Linked DNA regions of Homo sapiens: all the other regions are linked to region 2. The links come from fine-mapping of genetic effects on gene expression. A gene starts in region 2. Each other region holds a variant in brackets. All regions are shown on one strand. Distances are from middle to middle. Region 1 overlaps BCO2 (beta-carotene oxygenase 2). Region 2 holds the start of LINC02762 (long intergenic non-protein coding RNA 2762). Region 3 holds the start of LINC02763 (long intergenic non-protein coding RNA 2763).

Region 1 (10,675 bases), 59 kb after region 2:
GCAAATACAAATTGTTATTATGGCCTTCCAAACAGAACTTTAAAACAATAAAATATGGATTGAGATAAAAGGGTATGTAAATAGTAAGGAGGGGAAGAGAAGGGAAAAGGAATCAAAGTAAACTATCGACAGATGAGTGTGCATCCTTGATTTATCAGATGACTCAGTGCTACTTTTCTTTCTGACTGGTGATAGGGAAATATATTTACCTGGTTGGGAGTGATCACCACAGAAAGAATAACCCCACCATCTTCTTCATTGGTTCCTGGTGCTGGAACAAAAACAGGTTCTGAGGGATAAAAGCCATCTTCTCTCCAAACCTGCAAGTCCCAAAAAAAGCATTTGATAAAAGGCAAGTAGTAAGTAGGGAGCTTTCTATGGCTTTTGTCACTCCAAGCATGAATTTGGCTGTGATGTAGTTTGGATGTGTGTCCCCTCCAAAGCTCATGCTGGAGTGCTGAGCCCAGTGCTGAAGGTGGGGCCTAGTGGGAAGTGCTGGGTGATGGGGGCCAGTCCCTCATGAATAGCTTAGCACCATCCCCTTGGTGACAAGTGAGCTCTCGCTCTATTAGTTCGTCTGAGAGGTAGTTGTTTTAAAGGAGCATGGCACCTCCTCCTCTCTGTCTTGCTCCTACTCTCTCACCATGTGGCATGAGGCTCCCTCTTTGCCTTCTGCCATGATTCTAAGCTTTCTGAGGCCTCATCAGAAGCTGAGCAGATGCTGGTACCATGCTGGTACATCCCACAGAACTATGAGCCAAATAAGCCTCTTTTCTTTTTCCTTTTTTTTTTGTTTTTTTTTGTTTTTTTGTTTTGTTTTGTTTTGATTTTTGAGACGGAATCTCGCACTGTCGCCAGGCTGGAGTGCAGTGGCGCAATTTCAGCTCACTGCAACCTCTACCTCCTGGGTTCAAGTGATTCTCCTGGCTCAGCCTCCCAATTAGCTGGGATTACAGGCATGTGCCACCACGCCCAGCTAATTTTTGTATTTTTAGTAGAGACAGGGTTTCACCGTGTTGGCCAGGATGGTCTTGATTTCCTGACCTTGTGATCCATCCCCCTCGGCCTCCCAAAGTGCTGAGATGACAGGCGTGAGCCACCACACCCAGCCTAAACCTCTTTTCTTTATAAATTATCCAGCCTCGGGGATTTCTTTATAACAACACAGAACAGACTAACACAGGCTGTCAATAGAATATTCCAAAAGTAAAAGAATCAGGCCTACTGAGTTGAATATGGGAGAAAGAGAGGGAGTCTTTGCAGTCCCAGATTCCATCACCATCAAACACAATTTGTGTAACTATAATTTGCCATCAACTTTAAATATAGGTGTCCTAACAACCCTAACCCCACAATTGCTCCCAAAATAACATCAAAATCAAACATAGAATTATTTTGCTGGGCCTGGGGTCAATTTGGATTCCCTAGAAGGAACATACCCCTAACTTAGATGATTTCATAGTTCTCAAATAAAAGAAAATGGCTCAGCTGCTTAAATACTGAAGAATCTTAAGAGCTACTTTAAATAAAACAAACTAATTCAAAGGGAAGAACAGGTCTCTGAAAAGTTCAAAAAGGAAAGAGTTTTTCATCACCTTCAGTGTCTTATTCACCACATCAACCTTGATCAGAGAATCCCCCACTAAATGCCGAAAGCCACAGCCATAAAAGAAATGATACTTTTTGCCACTGAATCGATCATAGTAGATCTGAGGAAATTCAATGCCTCCTTCCTTTTCTAGGTCCTCCTGATGTAGATTTTCATGAGAGCACCAGATCTAAAAGAGATTTCAAAAGGATTTGTAGTGGTTGCTTAATTCTTATTTTCCTCTTATGTAGGTCAGTGAGGAGCCTCATACCCTATAAAGGTTTGTGACAGGGCTTGGGAACTGAGGTTCTATGTCATGTTTTAATATTGTTCCTCTTTCCATCATATGTGTGGATGCATAATGATTATCAAGTTTTATTAATAAGCTGTCAAATGACATAGGAGGTGGAGATATGCGTTTTATTCTTCTAAAGCTAAGGCATTGACAGCTACACAATGATAGGTCTGTGCTAAGCACATATTATCTAAAAGGTGGGGATTGCAGCTGGACGCGGTGGCTCAAGCCTGTAATCCCAGCACTTTGGGAGGCTGAGGCGGGCGGATTACCTGAGGTCAGGAGTTCGAGACTAGCCTGGCCAACATGGCAAAACCCCATCTCAACTAAAAATACAAATACATTAGCCGGGCGTGGTGACAGGTGCCTGTAGTCCCAGCTACTCGAGAGGCTGAGGCAGGAGAATTGCTTGAACCCAGGAGGCAGAGGCTGCAGTGAGCCGAGATAGCACCACTGCACTCCAGTCTGGGCGCCAGAGCAAGACTCCATCTCAAAAAATAAAAATAAATAAAAAATAAAAGGTGGGGATTGCTAATGCCAAGCTCAAATGGATAGACATTCCACAACCATTAGACAGTTCCATATCTCTGTTTCAAAGCACAGGAAGGATAGATAAACACTGTGTTCATTCCCACTGTTTCTGCAATTCTTGTGCAAGCGATGTTACATAACCTTAACCTGCTCGGATGAATGTTATAAAAGTTATTGGGTACCAGACATTTTGGAAAACAGCTAAAGAATAAAGTAACACCATTAAAGTTCAAAGTCTTAGTCTAATGTCTGTTCATAGCATACCGTTCCATCAGCCTGTTTCACAGCACTGGCTGAAGTATAGGACAATGGACTCAGGTTGTCTCCCTCAGGGGCATTCAAACTGACATTTAAAGGCAAAACAAACCTTCGAGGGAAAGATTTGGCTGCTGAATTATGGACCTGTTTGGGAAGAAGAAAGAGATGAAAATTGTCATTCATATGGTAACAGTATGTCCCAATAATTTAGATCCAGTCAACATCATTGGCATTCCTAAATATTTAAATAAATGATAATTTCCATTCATTCATCTACTTAATATTTGTTGAGTACCTACTATAGCCCAAGCAGTTTTAGACACTGGAGATACAGTCATGAATAAAGCAAAGTCTTTGGCCTCATATAATTTATATTCTAGTGGAGGAATGATAATAAAGAAATTTAAAAATTATAAAATATTTGTGGCCAGGTGCGGTGGCTCATTCCTGTAATCCCAGCACTTTGGGAGGCCAAGGCAGGCGGATCACCTGAGGTCTAGAGTTCAAGACCAGCCTGACCAACATGGAGAAACCCTGTCTTTACTAAAAATACAAAATTAGCCGGGCATGGTGGCTCATGCCTCTAATCCCAGCTACTCGGGAGGCTGGGGCAGGAGAATCACTTGAACCTGGAAGGTGGAAGTTGCGGTGAGCCGAGATCATGCCATTGCACTCCAGCCTGGGCAACAAGAGTGAAACTCCGTCACAAAAAAAAAAAAAAAAAAAAAAAAAAAAAGTTATTTAATTAGCATCAAATAAACAAATGATTATATAACAAAGAGTAAGAAACTAGAGAGTAACAAAGGGTGCTTTCCTTCTTCAGATTTGATCAGGTAGACCTCTGTGTGGAAAAGGATCAACTTAGTAAGCCTGGGTTGCTCAAACCCTGCACTATTTCAAGAAAGACTTGTTTTCATGACTGACCTTGGGCTGGTTGCTGGGAACTGAGCTCTTGGGATGTTCTGTCTGATAAGAGTGTTCTTGCATGTGCCAGTCCTTAAGTGACTCTGCAGTAGTTTGTCCAGATAGTTTATGCTAACAATGTGATTTATAATGAACACCTCCATTCCCTTGAGGATCTGGAACATCAGTAACTGAGGGTCATCATGTAGGGGTTTTATGCTTATATGATTCATCCCCAATAAAAACCCTGGACAAGCAGGCTTGGGTGGGTTTCTTTGGCAGACAACATTTTACACATGTTGTCACTAGTTCCTGGAGGAATTAAGCATGTCCATTGTGACTCTACTGGGAAAGGACTCTTGGAAGCATGTACCTGGTTTCCTCTAGACTTCATCTCATGTGCCTTTTCCTTTTGCTTATTTTGCTTTGTATCCTTTTACTGTAATCATGAGTCATGAGTATGACTATATAGAGTCTTTTTAAAAATTTTTAATAAAGATGGTATCTCACTATGTTGCCCAGGCTTGTCTCGAACTCCTGGGCTCAAGCAGTCCTCCTGCCTTGGGCTCCCAAAGTGCTGGAATTACAGGCGTGAGCTACCTCGCCTGACCTATTTTGAGTCTTATGAATCCTCCTAATGAATTATCAAACCTAGGGGTGATCCTGGGAACTCCCAACACAGCTTCTCCATAGAGATGATGTTTAAGCAGGAGACCCAAATAAAGTAAGTGTGTTTTTCCTGACAGTAAGTGCTTTAAGCCCATTTTCCTCTCTGAAATACTGTAGGATGGAGAACAAACTGCACCATTTCCTCCCATATACCTAGTCTATATGATCTCTGTAGCATGCAGAAATATTTTTAGTGAGTAAAGATTTAGTGCTATTCTTAAGATTCATAAAGTTATTAGCTTTTTTTTTTATAAAAGGTCACCATGGCTTCAGAAGTTACCAACTTTTTAAAAATGACTTTTAATTATATTTACAATTGTTTTCTCTTGCAAAACCATAGCTAACCCAAAAGACGCTTCAAATAATGGTAGATTACATTATATGGATCAACTACCCCATTGAAAACAACTAGAAATTATGGACAAAATGTTTAAAACAGCTGCCTGAAGGCACTGGTGAGCTAAAAAGACAGTGAAGAACAAAGGGGCCAGGTTTGGGATGAAAAGGAAACCCACAGAAACCAACTGGATACTGGGGCAAGTTTTTCCCTAACTACTTAAACATATGCTCAACATCATTAGTCATTAGGAAAATGCAAATCAAAACCACAATGAGATATCACTTCACACCCATTAGGATGGTTATTATTTTTTTAAAACCCAGAAAATAACAAATGTTGGTAAAAACGTGAAGAACTGGAACTCTTGTGCATTGCTGATGGTAGAAAAATGCTGTGGCCACCGTAGAAAAATAGTTTGGTTGTTCCTCAAAAAGTTAAACACAGAATTACATGATCTAGCAATTCCACTTCTAGATATATACCTAAAAGAACTAAAAAAAGGAATTTGGATATTTGTATGCCAATGTTCATAGCAGCATTATTCATAATACTCCAAAGATGGAAACAACCCAAGTATCCATCAACAGATGAATAAACAAATATTGTGTGTGTGTGTGTGTGTGTGTGTGTGTGTGTATACAATCGAATATTATTTAACCTTAAAAGGGAATGCAATTCTGATACATGCTACAACATAGATGAACTTTGAAAACATTATGCTAAGTGAAATAAGCCAGACACAAAAGGACAAGTATTGTATGACCCCACTTACATGAAGTACCTAAAATAGGCAAATTCATAGAAACAGAAAGTAGAATAGAGGTTACCAGGGACTGGAGGTGGGGGGAACAGGGAATTATTGTTTAATGGGTACAGAGTTTCTGTTTGAGATGATGAAAATGTTCTGGAAATGGATAGTGGTGATGTTGCACAACATTGTGAATTTACTTAATGCCACTGAATTGAACACCTAAAATGGTTAAAATGGTAAATTTAATGTTATATATATATACTTTCTACACCATAAAAAAAGAAATAATACAGAGATTTCCCATATATTCGTCATCCTTTTTTGCCAGTAGGAATGTCTTGCATAATTATAATATAATATCACAACTGGGAAATTTACATTGATACAATCCACCAACCTTATTCTAGTTTAACATGCATTCGTGTGTGTGTGTGTGTGTGTGTGTGTGCGTGTATTTAGTTCTATGCTATTTTATCATGTGTAAATTCATGTACCCACCACGCCACTCAAGATACAGAACAGATCCATCACCACAAGGATCCTTCACGCTACTTTTTGATAAGGGTATAGCCATAGCAACTCACTTACCCCTTAACCTTAAAGAGAAGGGCTTTTCAATAGTTTTGAGGGCTAGAGTGACAAAAGTTTGAATTTACGATTTTCCAAGAAGAGGAAGGCCTAGTAAACCTCTAGTCCTTTGGGTTGGGACCTCATAGGTCTGTACCCTATGAATAAGAATAAACAAGAAATAGTCCAGCTCTTGCATGGACTGAATCCTGCTTCAAATTATATAAGCAAGTGAAATTCTTCTCTAGAGGAAAATAACATCATCTTGTGTCTCAAAATATTTCCACAATTTTTAAAACACAATATTCTGCAAATGAAAGGAAATAACCAGCACATGAAAAGACAAGGCAACATGATTAAAAACCAAAATAAACAACAGATAACAGAAACAGAATCACAGAAGATCCAGATACTAGTTATCAGACTTTAACTATTCTAAATATGTTTAAGGAAATTATTTTAAACTGAGAATTGTGGTAGAGAACTATAAATTGGAAAAGAGAACCAAATCAATATTCTAGAACTGTAGATCTGCCTATAAGGAAATTTTCAAGTCTGGAAGGCTTTACTGTTGAATTATTCCAAATATTTAAGAAATAATATCAATCCTATACAATATCATCCAGAAAGAAGGAAAACAGAGAACAATTCCCAACTCATTGTATGAGACTAGAAAAACCACAAAACCAAAACCTAGTAAGAACATTATAGAAAAGAAAAAAATTAAAGGGCAATTTTATTCATGAACATAGATACAAAGAATTCTAAACAAAATAGTAACAAAGCAAATCCTGCAATATATTTAAAAGCAAATAAAATGCGACCAATTGGGATTTACTTCAGGAATGGAAGGGTAGCTTAACATTCAAAAATCAATCAATGGCTGTTATGAACATTTTTTAAAGAATCAGTCAATGTACTTCACCATGTTCACAGAATAAAGGATAAACGTTATATGATTATCTCAATAGTGCAG[A/G]AAAAAAACAGTTGATAAAGTCCAACATCCATTCATGACAAAAAATCTCAGTAAACTAGGAGTAAAAGGGAACTCTCCTAATCTAATAAAATGTATCTTTTTAAAAAGTTGTCCACACAAAACGTGCTAACAAATATTTATAACAGCTTTATTCATAATTGCCAAGAATTGGAACCAACCAAGATGTCCTTCAATAAATGAATGAATACACATTTCAGCGATAAAAAGAAATGAGTTCTCAAGCCACAAAAGACACAGAGGAACCTTAAATGCATATTGCTAAGTGAAAAAAGTCAGTCTGAAAAGTCTACATACTGTATGATTCCAACTATGTGACATTCTGGAAAAGTCAAAACTACAGAAATAGTGAAAAGATCAGTGGTTTCCAGGGGCTGAGAGGAGGAAAGGGGAAGGGACGAATGGGGGAGCACAGGGAGATTTTCAGGGCAGTGAACTATTCTGTATGATATTGGTAGATACATGACATTATGCATTTTTCAAAACCGGTAGAACTGTACAACACAGACCTAACCATCATGTAAAGTATGGACTTTAGTTAGTAATAATGTAACACTCCTACATTGATTCATCAGTTGTAACAAATGTACCATTAGCAGGAGAGGGAAATATGGAAACTCTCCATACTTTCTGCTTGATTTTTCTTTAAAAGTAAAATTGCTCTAAAAAACAGTCTATTTTTTTTTGGAAGTCCTTTATTGTAAAGGTAATTCTTTTGTCTGATGACAAACAGCAGCCACAGTGATTATTCTGGATCTCCACAATGGACAAATTCAATTTCTTCTTGAGACACAAGTTTACTTCTATATTTCTGAGGTAATGTTTTCATTACTTCTGCAGTGTCTGGTACATCCACAAATCCAGTAATTTACTTCCCTTAGAATGCTGGGAAATTGCAGAATCGTGAGATGGTTGCCCTGCTGATCTCAGAGCTTCTGGTACATTGGGTTTAGGATTGTCTCTTCCAGCAGGGAAGCTTATTAATGGAGCATGTGGCTTGACTACCTGAACGACACTGCTAGCAGATGCATCTTGCTGCCCATCATGACCCCCGAGAAGGGACAGTTTCTATTATATTTTTTTAATCTACAGCCACAGCATGCTTCATGGTAAAATGCTGCAAGCTTTGCCTCTCAGATTGGGAACAAGTTAAGGATGCCATTATCATCACTTATATTCAACACTGTACTGAAGATCCAGTGAAATAAGACAAAAAAAAAAAAGCCAATATACAGCTTACATGTAGAGTTAGAAAAGGAACTATCATTACTTGCATATGATATTATAGATGTAAAAATCTAAAAGAATCTATAATTATTAGAATTTGTAAGTGTAATTACTATATTAGTGAATATAAAATCAACAAACAAAAATCAATTGCCGGCCAGGTGCGGTGACTCATTCCTGTAATCCCAGCACTTTGGGAGGCCAAGGTGGGTGGATCACTTGAGGTCAGGAGTTCAAGACCAGCCTGGCCAACATGGTGAAACCCCATCTCTACCAAAAAAATATGAAAATTAGCCAGGAATGGTGGCACATGCCTGTAGTCCCAGCTACTCAGGAAGCTGAGGTGGGAGTATTGCTCGAACTCAGGAGGCAGAGGTTGCAGTGAGCTGAGATCACACCACTGCACTCCAGCCTTGGTGACAGAGTGAGACCGTCACACTGTCTCAAAAAAAAAAAATTGCTATATAGCAACACTAACATAAAATGAAAGCAAAAAATAAACAACATTTAAAATAATGTAAAAAAAAAACCTAGGAATAAATCTAACAAAAGATGCAGAAAATATGTAACCAGAAAACTATAAACATTGAAAGAAATTAAAGAAGTCTCAAATAAATGGAAAGATATATTGTGTTCACGTACTGGAAGACTCAACATTGTGTAAAGAGGTTAGTCCTCTCTCAAATTGATACATTGGTTCAGTGCAAATAGAATTAAAATGTGACCATATTTTTGTGTGGGGAACTGACAGCTGATTCTAAAATTTCTACAAAAACGTGAAGGGCCAGGGATGGCCATGACACTCTTTTCAAAAGAAAAATATTAGGATAACTTGACACTAAACCTTAAGACTTTTTTAATGCAGTGCACAAGTAACCATAAGTAGAAACAATGGAACAGAATATACAGTCCAGAAACAGAATAATGCATATACAGATACTTGACTTCTCTAGAAGATAACATAGGATAATATTTTCATTACCTTGCCATGAGAAGATGTCTAAAACAAGATGTACAACGTATAAGTCATAAAGGAAGAGACTGTATACTGGGCCATATTAAGTTAAGAATGTTTATTCATTAAAAGGCACTATTAGGATAATCTGATAAAGATAGCTAGAAAAATACCTATAGCAATTTTATATTTAATAATGAATTATTAAACATTTTTCAACACTACCTATTCAACTTCTATTCACTATCTTGCACTTCTATTCAACTCGAAGTCCTAGCTGGTACAGTAAGGCGAGAAAAAGAAATAAAGCCCTAAGTATTAGAAAGAAAGCTGTCATTATTTTCAGGTAACATGACTGTGCACATAGAAAATCCAAAATAATCTGTGGATCAACTATTTGAACTAATAAGTGAATTTAGCAAGATCTCTGGATATGAAGATAATATACAAAATCAATTGCATTTCTATAAAGAGCAACAAACAGAAAATGAAAGCTTAAAAGATACCATTTACAATAATTTCAAAACACACAAAAAGAAATGTAGTATCTTTATACTGAAAACTATAACTTTACTGAGAGAAATTTTAAAAGACCCAAATAAATGGAGGGATATTCCATGTTCATGGATTGGAAGACTCAATATTGTAAAGATGTCAATTGTCTCCAAATTGATCTACAGTTGCAATATTGTATCAGGTTTTTTCCTTGCAAAAACTGACAAGTTGACATCAAATTTAAAAGTTTCTGCACAGCAAAGGAAACAATCAACAAAACGAAAAGGCGACCTATGGGCTGGGGAAAAAAATTGCAACCACATATCCAATAAGGAATTATACTCAAAATTTGTATATTTTTAAATTTTTTTGTAGAGATGAGGTCTTGCCATCTTGCCCAGGCTGATCTTGAACTGCTGGGCTCAAGCAATCCTCCCACCTTGGCCTCCCAAAGTGCTGGGATTACAGGCGTGAGCCACCACACCTGGCCTCAAAATTTATAAAGAACTCTTACAACTCAATACCAGAAAAACAAATAACCCAATTAAAAAATGGGAAAAGCCGGCCGCCGCCCCGTCTGGGAAGTGAGGAGCGCCTCTGCCCGGCCGCCCACCGTCTGGGAACTGAGGAACACCTCTGCCCAGCTGCCGCCCCTGCCGCCCCAGGAGTGCCTCTGCCCAGCCGCCCACCCTCTGGCAAGTGAGGAGCGCCTCTGCCCGGCCGCTGCCCTGTCTGGGAAGTGAGGAGCGCCTCTGCCTGGCCCCCACATTGTCTGGGATGTGAGGAGCGCCTCTGCCCGGCCCCCGCCCTGTCTGGGAAGTGAGGAGGACCTCTGCCCAGCTGCCGCCCGTCTAGGATGTGAGGAGCGCCTCTGCCTGGCCGCTGCGCAACCTTCCAAGTGTGAAGTGACAGCCTTGTGTGTGATCTTTTCTGTCTTCCCCAAGTTTGCATTTTCAATATTAAAGTTTACTTTTTAATTAAAAGTTAAAAATAAATTAATTAATTAATTAATTAAAAATAAATAAAAAATGGGCAATGGACCTGAACAGTCATTTCTCCAAAAATAGAGGCCAGGTGTGGTAGCTCACACTTGTAATCCCAG
Region 2 (10,675 bases):
TCATTGCTGTGTGTCTTGTTCACGGTCTACACCAAAGATACTGAAGGGCCTGAGCTCCCTGGGCACACATGGACCTCCCAGGATGATCCTCCCCTTCAGAACTGCAGTAGGACCTAGAAAGGCCAGCAGATATGAAAGATGAAGAGGACTGCGTAAGAGGAAGGGAGACCAGAGCAAGACAGCCCCCCAGAGGTGTGACCAAGAAGGAGTAGAAATATTCCAAGAAAGTGAAGAAATATTTCCCCCATCCTCTGGATGCTGTGTGCATCGGCTAATAATCAGTCTCTTACCGGAATGAACTGGACCTGCATACCCTCCTGTAAGCCACCAATGTCACCAAGGGTCCCAGTGTGCATTATAACTGTCATTGACCAGACAGACCCTGTACTAGGTGTTGTACCTACATTACCTCAGTGAATGCCACCTAACACTATGTGCCCAAGACCACGAAGACTTCCAGCCAGGGAGCTCAAACTCGAGGGCACATAAGAATCACCTTGGAGCTGGTTAAAATGACACAAAAAGTTATGGCTCCTAAATCTGGAGTGGGGTCCAGGAAAATGCATTTTAAATAAGCATCTTGTGGGGCCTTCAGCATCTGCATCACTGTCACAGGTTGCTTATTAAAAATGCATGTTCCTGGCTGGGTGTGGTGGCTCATGCCTGTAATCCCAGAACTTTGGGAGGCCAAGGCAGGTGGGTCAGTTAAGCCCAGGAGTTCAAGACCAGCCTGGGCAACATGATGAAATCCCATCTCTACAAAAAATACAAAAACTGGCCAGGTGTGGTGGTGCATGCCTATAGTCCCAGCTATAGGGAGGTTGAGGCAGGAGGATCACCTGAATCCGGGGAGGTCGAGGATGCAGTGAGCTGTGATTGCATCACCGCACTCCATCCTGAGCCATAGAGTGTAACCTTATCTCAAAAAAAAAAAAATGCATGTTCCTGGACCCCCCCACCTCTGACCTACAGATCCAGAACCTGTACGCTCCAGCCCAGCCCTAATAGGCTAGTGGCTTCCCTTTGGACCCTTGGGACCAGCCAGTCTAGTCACACCACAACCATTGTCCTCAGAGAAAGCCCGTCTCACCATTTGTCCTCCACAGAACATTCCTCCAACCTCCTCCTCCCGTTCTCACTATTCTCTCCATCGCAAACCTTCCCTCTCTGCCACTTAAAACTTCCACTGCTGAGTGAGCTCCCCTACATCTTCCACTCATTCCTTTCCCTTATGAGCTTAGATGAAACCACCAGGGGAAAAATGGCAGACATGAGCTGCAATGATGGCCACCACCCCAACTCAGGGGAGCTCAGTCATCTTAGGCAGCAGGCAGCTGCAGTGATAATGGCTGCCCCCACCCCCCTGGAAACTCTTAGCAGAGTTAACAGAACAGAGCTGTTAACAAAGCTGTGCAGAGTTAACTTAACAGAGCTGTGCAGATTCTCAGCAGCCACTTGACTGGGGTCTTAGGCAGTCTCCAGTCAAGTGGCTGCTGAGAATCTGCACAGCTCTGTGCTTGGGACCCAAGGCCCTGGTAGTGTAGCTCAAAAGTGGGATCTCCTGATCTGTGGGTTGCGCAGATCCGTGGAAAAAGTACGGTTTTCTAGCAGGGTAGCATGATCACTAACCACCTCCCTTGGCTTGGGGTGGGAGCTGCCCTTTCCCCGTGTGGCTCCCAGGTGGGCCGTCGCACCACCCGGCTTTTCTTCACTCTTCATGGGTCACATCAACTGCTTAGTCAGTCCCAGTGAGAGAACCTGGATACCCTGGTTGCTGGTGCAGGATTCACTTGCCATTTTGGTTCCTCCCAGTGGGAGCCTCTGACCACAGATGTTTCTAGTTGGCCATCTTGGCCTCTCCCCCCAGTACTAATATTTTTATATGAAGAAAATAGTATCTTTGAGGTTTTAAAGGCAACTGTGAAATAAAATTGTTTCACCTCCGGGTGAAAAAAATAAAAATAATAAACAAATAAAAATAAAACTCTGTTGCCTACAGATAGAATTCAAAATGCTTAGCATGACCTATAAGACCTAGCATGACTTGGCCCCTATTTACTTGCCAGCAACAGCATCTGTCACTCTTTTTCTTGAACATTACCTTTTCATTGTTCCCTGCTCACATCACACTGTTTTGTAATTCCACACTTCTCTCTTCCAGGAACATTCACCCCAACCTACCCCTATCCTTCAAAACAGTTCATCCAGGATGGCTGCAGTGACTCACACCTGTAATCTCAGTGCTTTGGGAGGCTGAGGCAGGAGGATTGCTTGAGGCCAGAAGTTTAAGACTGCAGTGAACTATGATTCACGCCACTGAACTCCAGAGAGAGAGAGAGAGAAGAAAGAAAGAAAGAGAGAGAGAGAGGGGGGAAGGAAGGAAGGAAGGAAAGAAAGGAAGGAAGGAAGGAAGGAAGGAAGGAAGGAAGGAAGGAAGGAAGAAGGAAAGAAAGAAAGAAAGAAAGAAAGAAAGAAAGAAAGAAAGAAAGAAAGAAAGAAAGAGAAAGAAAACCAGCTCATCCACCATTTACCCAAAAAGCATTCTTTCCCTTCTTTTGTACTCCTAAGGCTTACCTCTATCTTAGCATTTACGCATTATTTTGAAATTATGTTTATGAACCTGCCTCTTAACACTAACCAAAAGCTATTCAAAAAGAGGGATAAGCCAGGCATGGTGGCTCATTCTGTAATTCCTTTGGGAGGCCCAGGTAGGAGGATTACTTGAGGCCAAGAGTTCAAGATCAGCCTGGGCAACATAGCAAGACTCCATCTCTACAAAAAAATAAAAGTTTTAAAAAGGAGAAATCTTAACTGGTCTTTATGCCCCTGCCCTAAAGCTTACCACAATGCCTGCCACATATTGGACCCTCAAAACAAATTATTGATTAATTTTCACAATGGGACTACAAGGCAGGCATTACAAATGAAAAAAACTAAGTCCCAGAAAGCCAGTTACATTCCAGGGGATGGGAGGGCAGCAACTTGAAACCAACTCTACCGCTAAGGCCTAGGCTCTCTCAAGTACAACCTGGAAAACATGAGTGAGCAAGGAGATGGAGGTGAGAATGAGGTGTCAGGGCACCCACCCAGGACATGATGCGTGAGGAATGGAGGGATATGAAGGTGGACAAGATTCTCAAGGGTGGAAGAATATGGTCATGAGGCCTTGGCATTGTGGCTTCTAAGCAGAGCCCTGATACGCTAAACTGCCTGGCAATATCAGGCCAGGCAGTTTGGTCTGACATTGCCAGTTTAGCTGCCCAGGCATGTCTGCTAGCTAAATCTAAATGCTGGGCCTGAGGTCAACGTCCCCACAAATACCCACAACTCTGCTGCACAACCATATTCAGAGTCCTGCACTTACTCAGCCTCTGCTTGCTGAGCAAGCAGATACTACCTCTCTTGAGCACAAGCCTCCAGGAAGTTCCTAATGTAGATCAAGGTGGGAATATCCATGGAATATCCAAATTATATTAGAAGGCCAGGCAGGGTGGCTCACATCTGTGATCCCAGCATTTTGGGAGGCTAAGGCAGGCGGATCACTTGGGACCAGGAGTTTGAGACCAGCCTGGGCAACAGGAAAAAACCCTCTACAAAAAAAAAAAAAAAAAATTAGCCAGGCATGGTGGCATTCACCTGTAGTCCTGGCTACTCAGGAGGCTGAGGCAAGCGGATCAATTGAGCTCGGAGATTGAGGTTGCAGTGAGCCATGATGGCACCACTGCACTCTAGGCTGGGTAACAGAAGGAGACCCTCAAAACAAACAAGCATACAAACTAACAAACAAAGTATATTAGAAGATAAATAAATATGGACTTGAGTGGACAAGAGCATCTTTGCGCCTCAGCCTCTCCTGAGAGGTGCCTCTTCTCCCACCCACCTTCCAGGGGCCTTCCCCTACAAACCTAAACATAGAAGGCAGCCAATGAAAGGGACCAAGAGGCAGATTCCTGAGATAAGCCAAGGAAAGCCCAGGCCCAGGAGCCCACAGAATGAAAAGAATATTCTCAGACAGTAGCAAAACAGGAAGACTGTTCGACACAGCTGAATGCATGCATCAGAACATGGCCGTCCCCTGCACACCCTTCTCTGGAGCTCTTAGGCTAGAAGATGATTTCTTCTGGACAAGGAAGACACAGGACATGGGGTGAAAATAATTCCAGCAAAAGAAAGCTAAATACACCATCCCGTGTTTACAAAACACAGGAAAAGTAGCGAGGGTATAGAGAACCAAGGATAAAGGCAGGATGCCCTTTTCTGGTAAACTTCATGCCAAACAAAGGTGAAGGGCCAGGATTAGCTCATTAGCGGGGAACTCAGGGCAAGAACACCCTGCCCTCTGTTCTGTCCTCACCTGAATCTCTGGGACGAAGCCAAGTTGTCACCTCCCTAAATGGTTCTAGAAACAGAAGAGTTCATGCCCTGCCTGGGGAAGGGACTTCTAGGTCTTCAGCTCTAATCATATGTTTTATGCACAGGTGGAGACATTCAGATCCATGGCCCTCACCCTGTTTCTGCTCTGCAGACTGAGATAAGAGCCTTACGTTTACAAAGTTTCACAAGAAACTGGAATTTGTTGCCCTTCTTTTCCACCTCCCTTCAGCCAGCTCCACTTTTCCTCGGATGCCATGGAGACTCGTAACCAGCTGGACAGCATACATCCCAGAGCTGGAGGGGAGCACAAGCGACCCTGACTCACCTGCCGTTGCTCAGAAGGGAGAGAAACCTGTGAAACTCGGAAATTCCCTCTGGGGGAGGTGTGGCCAGCTCCCAGGCACCACCTCCGCGGAATCTCTCCAATCATAACAAGAAGAAGGAAAACAAGCAGTTATCCAGTGCTTTCTCTATGCCAGCCATCACGCTCCACAAGTATTATGTCGTTAAAAGTTCCCAACAGCCTTATGAGATGGGCACTGTCATTCTCCCCACTTTGTGGATAAGGAAATAAAGCAGTCGCATAAATTGGTCTGGGGTCACCCTTGGTTTCCCATTGGAGTGTAGGCTTCCTGAGGTTAGAAGTTGTTTTTATGGGCTGGGTGCAGTGGCTCACGCCTGTAATCCCAGCACTTTGGGAGGCTGAGGCGGGCGGATCACCTGAGGTCAGGAGTTTGAGATGAGCCTGGCCAACATGGTGAAAACCCGTCTCTACTAAAAATACAAAAATTAGCCCGGTGTGGTGGCAGGTGCCTATAATCCCACCTACTCGGGAGGCTGAGGCAGGAGAATCGCTTGAACCCAGGAGGCGGAGGTTGCAGTGAGCTGAGATTGTGCCATTGCACTGCAGCCTGGGTGACAGAGTGAGACTCCCTCTCAAAAAAAAAAAAAAGAAGTTGTTTATATGACGCTTTGGGAGTGATATTAAGAACATAAATGCTGACTGACCAACTGAAAGATTCGAAGCACCGTGGGTATTTAATAAATGTTATTATTGATTGCTATTAAAAATCATTAATATGATTTTATATGTCTCAGGAAGCAGTACTACAAATAATTCTGAAGTTACTCTATCAATAACAAATTATGTAAGTGACAAAATTGCATTTGTTCACAAGGCTAGAAATAGAGCCTAATTGTTTTCAGGAATGTGGACATTATTTGTTTTTGTTGATAAGAAAGATTAGCTGCTATGGTATAAGTAACGATATTTAGTTGCTACTACATAGTATCAAATCAGTGCAAAAGGAAAAATCACAGATCACGAGATATATGGCAGAAGTTAGAAGAATGTAAGGGAATTAAATGAATTAAAGGCTGTTTCTGTGACTCAATTAATTAAATGATATTGAAAAGAGAAGGTAGAAAGCTGGATTCAGGGCTGATTTTCAGGAGCCTAGTTGTAAATAATTAGACCACCCCTTGGATGTGTACACGACATCAATACCTCATAGCCTCCACAGGAGCAGGGTTCATCTCCTCCTCCCAGTACCTGCAACAACAGAACCAACACGGAGATGCCAGCACGGAAATTCCCACGATCACAAACCCCACCTTTCTCTTATCATTCTGCTCTACCTTTCTTTTCCCTATATCCTTAACTTCTTACATTTTAAATCTTGTTTTCCTGTAAGCTGCTTTAAGTCCTACCTGAATAAGGCAGGGTATCAGAAAATCAATACACTCTTCAGGAACTTAACCGAAGGGAATTTCCTGTGAGAGCACATGGCCTTGACTTTGCCCCTGGAAAGGTGTCCTCGTCACATCCTTGTCAGACCACCACAGGAACCCACAGTTCATCCTGCCTGTTCCAATTCATGTCCCACTCATTAAACCGTCCTGGTTTTTTTGTTTTGTTTTGTCTTATTTTGTTTGCTGCTGAATCCTCTGGTTAAACAGCAGGAGCAATGCAGCCAAATGTCTTGATAAAATGTCACACCTTTCCATGAAATTTCTAAGTGTAGCTATGCAGGACAGAGGAAGAGCCACTTGTTTCCAGTTACTGACCTAGGTGGGCTTAGTTCTCTTCAGGTTCCTGCAGTGGGTTTCCTCTCAAGCAGAGAATTCTTTCCTCTCAAAGGAAGAAGCCACACTAGCCATGTAAAGAGAGTGTCCAAACCTTCCTCTTCCGCAGCTGGAAATACCTTCCCAGTTCCTCTTCTGTTTGGGGACTGGGAAGCTCTGAGTCCCAACTTCTCTTGTCCAGTTTCACTTTCTCACCCACCAACCCCTGCTCTCACTCTACCACTAAGTGCCCTCAACACTGATCTCTCCCTAAAAGTGACTGAAATAAATGTCCAATTTTGGGGGGATGACTGATTCTAATGTTGGGAAGAGAAGCTTAAAAGATCTGACCTCCTACTCAGTGAGAAAGGGGTCCTTGAACACCCTTCTTGAGACGTAACCTCCCTACTCCTACTTAAATGCTAGCAATTCCTGCTTTTTGCCACAGTAATGCAAGGCATTTCTGGAAGTTACGATGCAAACTAAATCTTTTTAGATCTCTGGTTTCAAAACTTTGGATTTTAGGCACCTAGATAGGTGCTACGTTTTCATTTTGTTAAATAAGGACATTTAAAAAATAAATAGGTGCCCCCTTCTGCGCAGTCACACTGAGCCAGTGCCTAGGCCTGGAACCGGGCCACGGCCCCTCAGCTTCGTCCACCGCCTCCCGACCATGGACCCCCACAAAGTGAATGCACTTCGGGCTTTTGTGAAAATGTGTAAGCAGGATCTGAGCGTTCTGCACACCAAGGAAATGCACTTCCTGAGGGAGTGGGTGGAGAGCATGGGGGGTAAACTATCACCTGCTACTCAGAAAGTTAAATCAGAAGAAAATACCAAGGAAGAAAAACCTGATAGTAAGAAGGTGGAGGAAGACTTAAAGGCAGACGAACCATCAAGTGAGGAAAGTAATCTATTAATTGATAATGAAGATGTGATTGAACCAGACCCTGATGCCCCTCAAGAAATGGGAGATGAAAATGCAGAGATAACAGAGGAGATGATGGATCAGGCAAATCATAAGAAAGTGGCTGCTATTGAAGCCCTAAATGATGGTGAACTGCAGAAAGCCATTGACTTATTCACAGATGCCATCAAGCTGAATCCTCAGTTGGCCATTTTGTATGCCAAGAGGGCCAGTGTCTTCATCAAATTACAGAAGCCAAATGCTGCCATCCGAGACTGTGACAGAGCCGTTGAAATTTATTTCAGCTCAGCCTTACAAGTGGCGAGGTAAAGCACACAGACTTCTAGGCCACTGGGAAGGAGCAGCCCATGATCTTGCCCTTGCCTGTAAATTGGATTATGATGAAGATGCTAGTGCAATGCTGAAAGAAGTTCAGCCTAGGGCACAGACATTGCGGAACATCAGAGAAAGTATGAGCAAAAACGTGAAGAGCGAGAGATCAAAGAAAGAATAGAAAGAGTTAAGAAGGCTCGAGAAGAGCAAGAGAGAGCCCAGAGGGAGGAAGAAGCCAGACGACAGTCAGTAGCTCAGTATGGCTCTTTTCCAGATGGACTTCCTGGGGGAATGCTTGGAATGAGAGGGGGCATGCCTGGGATGGCCGGAATAACTGGACTCAATGAAATTCTTAGTGATCCAGAGGTTCTTGCAGCCGTGCAGGATCCCAAAGTTATGGTGGCCTCTTCCAGGATGTGGCTCAAAACCCAGCAAATATGTCACAATACCAGGGCAACCCAAAGGTTATGAATCTTATCAGTAAATTGTCAGCCAAATTTGGAGGTCAAGAGTAATGTCCTTCTGATAAAGACCGTGCTGAAGGAAAAGCAACCTAGATCACCTTATGGATGTTGCAATAATACAAACCAGCGTACCTCAGGGGTGCTTTGAAGATAATCCATATCCCTCTCCCCCAAATGCAGCTGAAGCATTTACCATGGTTTGCCATTAGGGTATTCATTCAGATAATATTTTCCTACTAGGAATTACAAACTTTAAACCCTTTTTAAACCTTAAAAATATTTAAAACAAATTTAAAGGGACGGTTAATTCTTATATTTTTCTTTACTAATCATTTTGGATTTTTTCTTTAAATTATTGGGCAGGGAAGATACTTATGTATGGAAGATTACTGCTCTAATTTGAGCAAAATAGAAGTTTATTAGTGCGAGGCAAACATAAAAAAATAAGTAAATAAATAGGTGAAGGAGGGGAAAATCTACCATCTATAATCTACAATGACTATAGTTTCATAAAAGAAAGAACAACAAAACATCAGAAAGCTATAACATCAAAATAAAAGGCAGGCTTTAAACCAAATCAACATTTCTTTCTTTATAAAAACTGTCATAATTTTGCCCTCATCTCTGTCATTCCATGAAAACAGGTAAACAGTTGATCAAGATCATTGCCAGCCTGGAGTTTGGCAATAATTGCTATAAAGCAGGGGTTATTTTCCCAGAAGGCCATGTGACCTGGAGCAGCTCAACCAGCCAACCCCAGTCCACTGACCACGGTAGGCCAACGAGGCAACACAAGTAAAGCACAGTGCAGATCCAGCTGTGCTCTCAACATGCAATTTTGGATTAAACGAAGACACAAATATGATCAACAAAAAGTCTTGAGCAAAGATAGAGCAACTAACTATTGCTGTGATAAACTTCTCTCCAAGTTCTATCAAATGTAAGTAGATGAGGCACGTGTCCCACACGTACAACAAAATATACACACGGCATATTAAAATTAACATGTGCTGTATCTGGAATATGTCTGAATCTGAAATGCTAAGCAGAGCACACATGTATTCCCTAGATAGTAAGCTGTCCAGTGGAGAGAATCCCCAGCTGGTGGGAAGGAGGCCGGGATCTGGCCCTGACTTTGTCACTAAGTAGTTCTTAAGCCTGGGGCAAGTTGTTTAATTTTTCTGTGCTCAGTTTTCTCAGACATAATAAGGGAGTTAGATTAAAATTATCTCTTAGGGCCAGTCCTGCTTGAAAATTCTTAATGTAATACATAGCAGCGTGTTCCCCCTCTCTGAGAATTTGTAAGTCCTCGGGGAATGAGAAGAATGGTATGCATCTTCTCAAAAGCTGACCACGGGCTATCCCTAAAGCATGGGGACTCTCACTTTGGGCTATTCAAAAGCATAACACCCACAATGCTGAACCAAAGAGCCAGAGGCACAACCCAATTAGCTCATAAATCAACATGTGTGGACTTGAACATCCATTGTGGGTCAACAAATGAGAGTAACTTCTCCAGCTACCCCCAGCTCCCTGGACGCCCTTGTCCCTCGAGTTAACACAGACACTTGCCATCGGTGGTAAAAACTTCCTCTTAGAGGGTTGACTCTGTGGCATGCATGTTACATGCATTACCTCTTTTAAACCTTAACACAATCCTGCAAGGTTGGTCGGAGTCTCTCCATAATATGGATAAGAAAACTGAGGCTCAGGTAGGTTAAGTACAGTCCAAGGTTACACTGTGAGGAGGAAGATTCCAATGGAGGCCTCTTGGACTCTAACATCTGTGCCCTTTCTCACGTTCTCCATATTGCATCTGTCACACCTCTGACATGCCCAGGAGACACATCAAAAACCCCAGGGCTCCTCAGACTAGTGATCCCTGCATCCATCAGTGGTCGTGTCTGGTGAATCTCAGAGAATCTCCCATTACACTTTGACCTTGGAAGGCCAACTGCTTTCTACTCTCTGACAGCTCTCCTTCCCAGGGAGACCAACAAGGCATTGAAGCACCCACCAGACTTTCTACAGCATGAGGAGCCTCTGCATATAAGCTGTAGGCAGACGGGCAGGCTTGGGGTGCACAGGGCAGTCACGGAACCTAGCTTTTCCAACTTTAACGATTAGTCCGGCATTCAACTCTAACCTGGTTTACTCAAACCAGCTGCTAAACGCTTGCTATTCAAGGTGTGGTCCATGGATCAGCAACTTCCTTGTATCACCCAAGAGCCTGTTAGAAATGAGGAATCTCAGACCCCATATCAGATGCACTGAATCGGAAACTGTACTAGCAAGATGCTTCCAGTGACTTGAACACACATGCATGTTCTAAAAGCTCCATCCAAGAATCACTGATGGGGCTTTTTGAAAGGGTGAATTTCCAGGAACTGCAGTCCAGAATTGTAGAAAAGGGGGTGGAGAAATACAAGGAGGCCCCAAACATGTGTATTTTATTTTAAAACTTGTTTTCTTTTGGTCTCCTGTCCCCAAGAAAAATCAAGTCCTTTCCAGCTTGATTCAAAGAACAATTTTG
Region 3 (10,675 bases), 210 kb before region 2:
CAGCTCTGCCCTACCCCTAGCACTAACCCTGACCCAGGTTAGCTTTGCTGCTCTCGGTCATATTTGCTGCTTGTCCATCCCCTTCTTTCTTGAGGCTCAGGCCTACTTTGTGCCTCTCAAGAACTGTGAAGAGCCTGATATTTTATAATACTTACAAGGTAACAAGTTAGCCTGCCATATTTTCATGATTACTTATAGAAGATATGAGACTCCAGGGTCAGAGACAAGAGGCAGTTTACTACTTACAGTAATTGCAGCAGCCAGTGTATCATTATTTTTTGCACCAGTTCCCTAGGCCCCAGTGTCTACAAGGCAACATAAAGAAGGCCAGATGGCACTTGCACACACAGTGGGTTGTATTATAAGATAGAAACCCTGAACTTAGGAAACTTAAATCTTTATAAGGGTCAATAGCTATGACTGCTCTTTGCTCCAGAAAGAAATACAATCTCTATTTTCCAGGCTGTTCACTACACAAACACCCTTGAAAAGATAGTTCAGAGCAAAGGGAAGTTGGTGCTTGTCTCCAGAATGTGCAGAAATGGGAGAGATCTGTGAAGGACTGCCTCTCATCACACCCTATGCTGGAGCCCCTGACTTGCTCATCAGCTTGCCCCTGCTAGTTCAGAGTGTCCTACCTCTGAATCCCAATTCTGCAGCTGGGACCTAACAGCTAACTACCTATGTCCAAGCACCTGAATTGCTCATAATTCCCTAGATTACTTCTCTCCAAACTTTCTTCTCAGGCAAATGGGTGCCCAAGTCTCTGATCCCTGGTGGGAACTCTCCAAGCTAGAACAGAACATAAGAATGTGTGGAGCTAGCCAGAGGCTGCAGAACAATGAGCCAGAGAAGACAGTAGGAGCATCATTCAGGTTAAATGGAGGGTTGCAAGCTAATCACACAATCCAAATCACTAGTTCTCAAACTTCAGTGTTTTGGTGTTGAAGTTATTTCACAACTTCAGAGTGTAGCAGAATCACTTGGAGAGAGTGCTAAAACACAGATTGTTGGGCCCTAACCCAAATGCCTCTGATTAAGCAGGTCTGAGCTGGGGCCTTGCAAATATGCACTTCTAATAAGTTCCCAGGTAGTGCTGATGCTGTTCTGGTCTAAACTTTGTCCATCCAAGGTAACTGGGCTGAGAAATAACAGTCAGATTGAGACCAATGGAAGGCCAAGTGGAGGAGGTAACAGGAAGGTTTAGAAGAACCTGAAGGGATATGATTCAGCTGTGCAACCCAGAGGCCAGACACTTCCTATAAAGCTCCCTCAGCCTTGCCTGTGGGTCAGGGAGAGTGCTATTATAGGGTCATTTAGGGCAGTGGGATGTTGGGCTTCCATCATGTTGACTACTCGTTATCCCAGATGCTATGCCCCCTGTTAAACATGGCTCCTTCCAGTGTCTGTGGCTGGCTCTGCTCTTAGGGTCTCATCCTACCCCACAGGTAGACCTTGTTGGAGTTTCTGTTCCTCCCAGCCCGCCTGCTCCCAGTCAAGCTAACCCAGCCATGTTAGTTAGCCTGTTTCCCTTCCCCACATTTATAGATCATACACACCCGCCAAATTCATTATTCTCCCATCTCTGCTCTGTACTCAAGAGGCTGATACCCTCACAGACTACAATACCTGGGCTACCTTGTGGCCTGTTTCCAGTTCCATCTGGCTAAAGGGACACACTGGCAAAGATCAAAGGATGACAGATGAGTTTCAGCTGTTCACTCTCCTCCTTCCTCCTCAGAGCTGTATCTCTCGCAATATTTGCATCCCATACTGTCTCTTCTGCTGAGTGGCCCCTGCTCCATGGTACCAGCTTTAAAACTGGAATATCATTTCTATAAAGCCATTTCCTCCTCTTGTCCCTTCAGTGCTCGGGGTGGTAATGGCTTCCTGCTGTTATTTCAGGGGCATCACTACCCATCACCTGTTCCCCTGGTCCTGCCTACACTGCTGTAAGCAGTTCCTTCAGTGAAGTCTCCTAAACCTCTGAGCAAGATTCTGTTTCTACTGAGAACCCTTGAGGGACATAGTCGTCTCGCCTGATCACACCCCAAGGTGTACCATAGCTCCTCTCTGCTGGGTGGAGGTACCTGAAGTGGGCCCTTCTCAGGAATTGAATTGATAAAGAGCTTCCTATAACTTCTTGAGAATCCATCTTGAACTCCACCCCACTCCACAGGGCTCCCCTAGTGATACGAAGACGGCAGCAAAGGTGAAGCCACATCAGACATGACTGAGGTCTTGTCAGCCAAGCATTGGTGGGCTCCTCTCCCCAGAGAGCTTCCCTCAGTGCCAACGAGCAATAGAGCAAGGCTGCCCCCCAAGAGCAAAAGTGCTCCTAAGGCCCTGCTAACAGTTTCCCAAAGTCTTGTCAGGAACAGGAGGCTGGTACCAGCAGCACTCCGGAGTCTCTGATGTTGCCATGGTAGCAGTAGGGTCACTGCTTAGCAACAGACCAGAGCTGCAGGAAGTTGCTAAGGTATTTTCACATGTGTTAAAGCAAATGGATGTTTATCTCAATCTTGAGTGTAAATACACTGTAGGGAAAAAAAGAGAAAACATGTACACACAAACCACCTACTGATGTTCAGAGCTGCACGTCTGCTGATACTTGAGGCCTGAAGCATATGCCTTCTCTCTGGAGGAAACAGAGAGACCATAGATGACCCAATGAAGTACATCCTCTTACCCCCTAAAACAACTGTTCACCTGTCTTCCCACCAACCCAGGCTTAAAACCTTCCCCATCATTTAATTTCCAATAGAATTTCCAAATCTTTCTCCTAAATGGTTTTTGAGAGGCCATGTGGCATACTAACTAAATGTGTGGACTCTAAAGCCAGACTATGTGAGTCCAAAGCCCGGCATTGGCCCCCTCTTTCTTTGTTACTTTGGACAAGTCACTTAATATCTCTGTGCCTCAACTTTCTCATCTGTAAAATGGGTATAATACTAGTGCCTACCTTACAGGATTATGTGAGGATTAAATAACTTCTTCCATGTCAAGCACTTTCAACAGTGCCTGGTATACACTGAGGGCATTGTTAGGGATAGCTGTTAGTAACATTCAGTGATATCATGGATACTTTCCCATTTGCCAGGCTCTATATAAAGAACGAAGCATATAAAAGTTAGCAAGAAATTGGCCCTGTCTTCATGGGGCCCACAGCTATTCCAGTGCTAGTTTGGCAATGGTAAAGACCCAACTCTTTGGATGGTTCTTCAAAATACCCCCAAATACTGACCTTGTCTCCTTAAGGAGTAGTTGTGAGGTTTAAATAAGGTAATCCATGTAAGAGTTCAGAATGGTGTCAGGCATACAATACAGGCTCAATAAAAGTTACCTATCACTACTAAAATTATTTTATTATTCCTTCCCACAAACCAGCTCCAAACTTGTCTGTGTTCAAGCCCCTAAATAAACTCATGCACTCCCACATCTGGGTTCTTCTTGACACTGCCCATGACCATCTGGAATACTTTCCCGTTTCCACCAGTCTCGTGTCCGCATGACCTGCAAGACCAGGTTCTGTCGTACCTGTGCTTGAAAGCCCCTCACCTACTCCACGCCATGCTCACCCCTCCACCCTAACTAGGTTGAAACTCCCATGGAGGTCAGTGTCTCTTCTGCCTTGTGTTTGTATTTTGCTTTCTAAGCCACAAGCCCTCTGTATGAGACTCTTCTTATGCATCTTCTCAGATCCCCTCAGCCTCATCTGTCTTGGGCCCTTTACCACTGTTCCACCTCTATTGTCACCAGTGACCAGCTCTGCACTGCTGTGACCAGACAGCAGTTCTATGGTAACCAGCTTCACCCAACAGCCACCCAGTCACCAATGCTGGCTCCTAGGGCCACTTTACCACACAATGCATGTGTGATCATGGAATTCACCAGTCTTACTAAGGCCCCCATCATCCAGAAGCAGCATCCTGAAGGAATGGCAGAATGAGCAAAGGCACCTGCCCTGTAACAACACACCAAAGGGTTAGGACACAATCACTGGTGATGTGGTATGTGCACTGAGCAATGAATGATGTTGGCATTGTATATGGTGCTGTGTCCCAAACAGCAGGGATACACAGTCTGGGAACCAAGGAGTGGATGTAGGACTTGTCTCTCTCATCATCCTTCCCACTCACTCAGAATTTGTGCAGTCTATAGCCTGGACCCTGCTGGATAAGAGGTCTGGTTGTCAGGGAAGAAACTCTTCTGCCAGTGAGGTTCCACTGAACTTAAAGCTGACTACCACTTAGTCACTTGGCACACCTCATGCTAATGGACAACACAGGAGTTATCATACTGGTGGGATTAATAACCCTGATTACCAGAAGAAGCTAGAGTTGTGGCTGCACAACAGGAGGAGGAAAGATTCTTTCTAGAACCCAGGGGTTTCAGTGGGGCTTTTCTAGGTGCTTGAAACCCAGCAAAAACTATAAAGGGGCAATTGCAGCAACCATGGTTTAGCAAGGGAATGGCAAGCAAGGGTAAACATAGCCTAGTTCTTTGCTACCCAAACATGCCCACGGACAAGCAGCATCAACACCACCTGAGAGCTTCTAGAAATGCAGAAGCCCAGGTCCCTCCCCAGACCACTGAATCAGATTCTGCATTTTAACACAATTCTCAGGTGATTCAATGCACTTTAAAGTTGAAAAGCATACTCAGCAACCCACTGGAAAAGCAACCTAGCTAGAGGTGAGAGAAATCTAGAATCAGTCATGGAGGTGGTTGAGCAATGAATATTCGTTACGGCCTAAAACCAGCAACAGGAGTGGGAACTGTAGCTTCTTTTCCTTATACTCTTCAGAGAGAGTGGCTGGTCACTGCCTTGATGGAGAATTAATGACCAATTGCTGGTAGAAATGTGAAATGACGCAGTCTGGCATTTCCACCAAATGGTAAACATAGAATCACCCTGTGACCCAGCAATTCTACTCCTCCCGAGAGAAGTGAAAACCTAAATTTCTATATGACTGTTCATAGCAGCCTTATTCATAATAGACAAAAAGTAGAAACAACCCAAATGTCCATGAAAATTATACAGGAGGATCCTTGGAAATTATACAGGATCCTCCCTTTCTCTGAGGAAAGGGAGGAGAACGATAAAAACTTGCCCCAAGTCACACAGCCTGTTCTAAGTGGAAATTATACAGGATCCTTGATTTTTCTATCAGGATAAGGATGGGAATATAAAAATGAATAGAAAGTTGGTGGTGAGAAAGAACGCTTAAGCTGGTGAGACAGCTGATAAAAATTTCTGCTGAAAAGTAAGGACATTTTCCCAATAGTTCCATGTAATCCAGATGGGAAATCACCAAAATCTAGAATGAGCATCCTAATGGAAATGTGGTCTGGAAAGGTGGGCTGGGAGTCCCCTTCACTAAGCAGGAAAGAAGCCGGCTGTGTGAGAGAAGAAAAAATACTACGCACAAAAGCTTTCGTCTTAATCTGACCTCAGAGAACAGCATGTGTGCCTGGCGTGAGTACCTTTCAGGGAGTGTCTGGGTTTCCTGTACCCCAGGGCCTGATCCACTACAAATACATAACAAGTACTTGATAAAAAAATCTAATTGGATTGTGTCTGTGCTGGAGCTAAACAGTCTCTTGCTGTTTAGGGGAAACCCCATGTCCAGTACAACCCCAGCACCTAACAGAGTGCTTTGCACTTAATGAGCATTCAATAAATATTTGTGAAAGGAATAAATGGCTAAATGAATAAGCACTTTTAAGCCTGAAGACAGGTTACTGCCTGTATTTGTGAGACCTAACAGAGTGAGAGAAATGAATTAGCAAGTTTAACTCCTAAGGGAAAAAAGAAAGTAATGACTGCGCTTTGGCCCCCAAAATGTTATCTCCCTCATCCACCATTACCACCAGCATTGAGGTGGGACATCTGCAATTTGGGGCCTGGGTTTTAAAAAAAATCCCCCAGTTGCTGATTTGGGAGATGGCAACATAGAATCTTCTATCTAGAAGAGACCTCAGAGATCCCGGAGCTATTGGAGAAAAAGAAGCCCAGAAGAACTGTCATTTGTGAGGATGTGACAAATGGCTGGGTAATTTCCCAAGGATAAGCTAAACCCGGGCAGGGAGTTCATGCATCAACAGCAGTACCTATAATATCAGAAGTTTAGGAAATTGACACTGTGTCTGTCACACATTATTTGAAGTGAATACTGTTCTGGATAATTCACTCTTCCCCAAACTGTGGATATATGATGATGGTTTTGCTGGGACATATTACAAAGGGAAAAAGAAATCTTCCCAAATGCTCCCATGCAGAAGGTGCAAATTTCACACAGGTGACTCATGATGAAGGGCCTGCAGAGACCTACAGACTCAGCCCATTTCCCAGAACTGCCCCTAGAGAAACATTCCCAGGCCAGAACTTCAGAAACCCAGTCACCTACTGCAAGCACTA[G/A]CATGATAAGGGCAAAACTGTTCCCCAAGGAGAACTGTGCCCTTGGGCAGAGCAGTGGAGCGAATTAATTTCTAATAATGAGACTGTGAGCTACAGTGTTTGTCTACAAAACAGGCTTATTCATGAAGAGTAAATATGTCAACTAATTCAAGAGGCATGCTAAATCTCCATTGTTTTCTGTAGTTCAGGTTTCTTGGCTCTGTAAAATGTGATGCACCCCTTCAATGTGTGCAGCAGAATCTGTGAGATTGCAGAATGCCACATTAAACTCAGAGCTCCTGGGCTAATTAGGGTAAATCCATTTTGCAGTAATGAATTGTTGGTAATAGCCCATCATGGAGCAGATGTCTCATCCATCATTGCCCCGGGAGTCCGACACTCTGTAGTACTCCCATCAGATACGGAGGGGGCACAGCCCAGGGAGGCGATCCTCATCTCTGGACTCCCGAGGGCAGCCAATCCTAGGAGGTAGAATCAGTGGGTGCCTATCCAGTGTGATTTAAGGTCCCCCAAATCCTCCCTAACTCAAAATATGTCCCCACCCACTGCCACAGTGCTTAAAATATCCTCCTTTGAATTTTCTGCTATTAAAATGTAAATATGTCACCTGGAAGAAGTAACACATTAAATTAGCATCCATTATCACTCATTTTCACATTAGGGAGAGCTGGGCCCTGAGGAAAGGGAGGAGGACAGGTAGTCCTTGATGGAGGGTGGCTTAGAAAGGAGCTGAGCAGGACTCAGGCTGGTGGAGTGGGGCCAAGCTGGGGCACAGTGTGCGTGCCAGCGAACTCTTGCTCACCCCATCCTACTGACAATGTGGGTTTTTTAAGTGTATGCTTCCTCAAATTACCTGGGCAACCTAGTGGGGAGAGATGGTAACTTATTTATCTTTGCCAGTCCCCAGGACCTCTCCAGTAAATGCTTCTTGAATAAGTAAATTTCATCCTCACAACCCCCCAAAGGAAATCAGAGAAGGGATCATGACCATTTTATAGGTGCAGAATCACACTCATGGAGGCCCATTTTCTTGCCCAAGCACATGGGACTGAGGAGGAGCAAGCTCTAGATAAACAAAAGGGCAGACAAAGTATATGTTTTTATCTACAGGAAATTGTATTTATGTGGGAACTAATGAGAAGTGAGAATAGAATAGATTAGGGCCACTTTTTGGATGCCTTTCAATGTCAGCCTGAGAGTTTGGGGTGTTATTCTGGGAACTTCTGAAAGTTTGTTTAGTGATTGAGAACACAGGAAGCAGAAGGATACAGAGAAATGTGCAAAGTGATATTTTCGGAAGGGTATTGGCATAGAGGAAAATAGGATGGGTTGGAGAATCAAGAAATTAAAGACTAGTAAAGAGATTCTTTGTGTGAATCAGAATCGGGAAGGTAGCAGTGGAAATAGGAGGGACGTATGCAGACGTATGTAAGAGACGTATGGATAACAAATAGATCAGTTGCAGTGACTGGTTGGAGGAGTGGGTGAGGAAGAAAGTGGATTGAGGGACATTGACTAGATTTCAAACCCACTTAACTGACAGAAAATCGACAGCAGTGGGAAATCTAGAGGAGAAGCGGGTTTTGATTGAGGATGGTAAGTTTCTTGCAAACATGTTGAGTAAGGTGATAATGGAACACCCAAATGAAGATGTGCATGGGGCTGATAGAAACTTGATGTCAAACCTCAAAGAGATTTAGTAGAAGCAACAAGGATAGGTGAAATCTCAGAGAAAGCGTAGAAAATGAGTCAGAGTCAGGACCTCTGACATGTCCACTTATAAAGGATGAGTACAAAATGAAGGAGACAGAGTCGGACAGTGTAGTGAGAATTGAAGCCAGTTATGAGTGTTTCAAAGGGTAAAGGTGCCAGTGCCAGAAGCTGCAGAAAGGTCAAGGAAAGCCAGGAGAAACTGCTATTGGGCTTCAAGAATAGACTCTCTGGTTATCTTCAATAGCACAGTCTCAGATGTGTGGAAAGTGCAGAAAAACTTAAATGCAATGGGGAGGAAAGGAAAAGATGGGAGGGGAAGAGAGATGGCTGTGCAGCGACAGTCGAGCCAAGCATGGCTGGCCTTGTTTTCTTGTCCCTTTCCATACAGGGAATGCTGAACCTCGATTTATGTGCAGAGAATGACTGAAATGCAAAAGAGAGCAGGAGATACTGGGGAGGCATCGATTAGAAGCAGCAGGAAGGGAGGGGCTGAGATGTGCAGGGGAGGGTAGACAGAAGAAGGTGGGGGTCTAGGTTGAAGAAAGGGAAAGAAGCAAGCAATGAGCTGAGTCCAAACAGAGATCATTTTCCTGGAAAAATCAGAAAAATATGTTCCCAGGGTTCAGCCTATAAAAAATAGTAGGCTCCCAGGGAACATGAGAGGGTTCCAGACAACAAAGGGCTGGATTCAGATGTTGCCAGGATTAATCTAAAGCAGGAGAGGAACAAAACTCATTTCCAAAGGAAGGATCTCATCTGTGTGTCGCTGACAGCCCCGATGAAGTCTATACCTAGAATTACAAGGCCATTGAACATCAGTGCTAGGAAGGCCCTGGGAAGGCCCTGAGACATCATCTGAGCCAATTCTCTCTCACTTCACCAACTGAGAAAATAAGGCCCAGAGGGGTGAAGTAAATTAATCAAGAAAACACAACTGGTTAAAAGTCAAACCTGGACCAGAACCTAAGACTCTTAGCTCCTGGTCAAGTGCAATTCTCACCAAATAGCAACTCTATGAGCTGGATTTCCCAATATACGATTGGGACAATTTCAATCTTATGTAATTTCTTCTTTCCAATAATGATCATGTTACTTAGATGTGTGCGTAACAAAACGTGATTTCATTTTTGTACCTTTGTGTGGCTTTTCATGTTAAAAATTTGGAAAAAAAAAGCAATAAATCAGGAATTGAAAATATTTGTCAGATCATGCCTCTCAATTTTTGGTTCTGCAAATATAGTCACTGCAATTGCATAGCAAAGTTATTAAAAGCATAGCTGTGGAGTTGAACAGACCCAGCTGCAAAGCCAGGTGAGCCCCACCACTTACTATTTGTGTGACATTGAATGAGACCTTGACCTCTGCTGGGAGAGGGTGGCAGAAGGGAGGGAGGCAAAGCAATCGACCACTCTGTCATTGTGGCCCTAAGCATGGAGAAAAGCAGCAGTGAGACCCAGAGAGGGAAGCCGTCAAAGCTGCCACTAATACCTGTTTCCCTTTGGAATAATCCCAGTGCTTTGGCCGGAGATGATTTGAAGGCTTTTTGAGAGGCACACCTGAAGAGAAAATGTAATTACTTTTTCCTGCAATTGAATTTCCAGGCAGTGTCCTTTCAAAATAAAAAAGGCACTTGAGGGGTGGAAGGGAGGATTAGGGGAAGAAATGAAGGATGGAGAAGGGCCATCCCCGCTGAAGCCGGTGACATTTCACCAAAGCTACTCCCTTTGGAAGCAGCTGGTGCAAATGTCACTCAGCGGAGACAATAGGAAGCAAGAGAGAGCAGTGGGATCTGCAGAAAATAACGTGATCCTCTCCTACTCCCACCAGCCACCCCTCCCCAACCCCCCAAACCCTGACCCTCTGGAAAGCAGTTAGGCCAGGCACTTAACTGACGTTGTTGGCCTTAGGGTGGCTGTAGATATCTTGTAGCTATGTCACGGCAGTCATCATGAAGCACATATCCAACCCCAGTAGAACTGCCCCCGTGTCAGCCCTGGGGATCTCTATCCATAGGAGGCAATGCCCTGACCTCCATCTCTCCCATGTAGACCAGTGGACCAGAAGAGAGTGTGCTGTGCAGCCATTTCCACCAGAGCATCCCAGGAGAAATGCAGCTGCTGATGATTAAAGAGTTGATTTCTACAACAGACAACCCTAGGGTTCTTTAAGTTGATCATTCTGGAGCACAAAAGAAGGAAGGAGAAGAACAAAGAGAGTTAAGCCAACCCAGGGTTGAATCCAGTTCTGCCACTTATTATATGACCTTAGCAAGTTACTTAACCTCTGCACTGCCTCACTTTCTTCATCTGAAAAAGAGGCATACTATTGCTCACAGGGGGTTAGGAAAATGAGATGTAATTGATCACAAGTTCCTGGCTGTGAGGAGGTACTCAACAGGCAACATTACATATACATATTTTTAAGGACATATCAAGTTCATGCACACTGACAAAAGAGCACAGGTCCCTGGCCAAGCTCTCAAAGTCACCTTGCAGGAGGATGGACATTCATAAAACTCCAAAAGGCAGGAGGAGACCTCTT

What was found. PIP is the estimated chance that this variant, and not a neighbour inherited with it, causes the effect. A credible set is the group of variants that fine-mapping cannot tell apart.
Region 1: its variant is the best candidate, but not a certain one, in a credible set for the expression of LINC02762 in whole blood (TOPMed, PIP 0.59).
Region 3: its variant is the best candidate, but not a certain one, in a credible set for the expression of LINC02762 in nasal epithelium (TOPMed, PIP 0.59).

Annotation. Positions count from the first base shown.
Region 1 is chr11:112,205,865-112,216,539 of GRCh38, reverse strand. It overlaps BCO2 (beta-carotene oxygenase 2), which reads right to left. Exons shown (of 12, transcript NM_031938.7): 9 at 2,679-2,816; 10 at 1,596-1,778; 11 at 210-320. It also overlaps the pseudogene MRPS36P4. Among named protein-coding and RNA genes, the nearest start is that of PTS, 15 kb to the left of the region's middle. The variant A/G (reference allele first, on the strand shown) is at 6,879.
Region 2 is chr11:112,264,808-112,275,482 of GRCh38, reverse strand. LINC02762 (long intergenic non-protein coding RNA 2762) reads right to left here and starts at 4,734. Exons shown (of 4, transcript NR_126004.1): 1 at 4,700-4,734. It also overlaps the pseudogene ST13P10.
Region 3 is chr11:112,473,871-112,484,545 of GRCh38, reverse strand. It overlaps LINC02763 (long intergenic non-protein coding RNA 2763), which reads right to left and starts at 2,314. Exons shown (of 3, transcript NR_120559.1): 1 at 2,091-2,314. LOC107984389 (a long non-coding RNA gene) reads right to left here. Exons shown (of 3, transcript XR_001748387.1): 3 at 10,039-10,312. The variant G/A (reference allele first, on the strand shown) is at 6,422.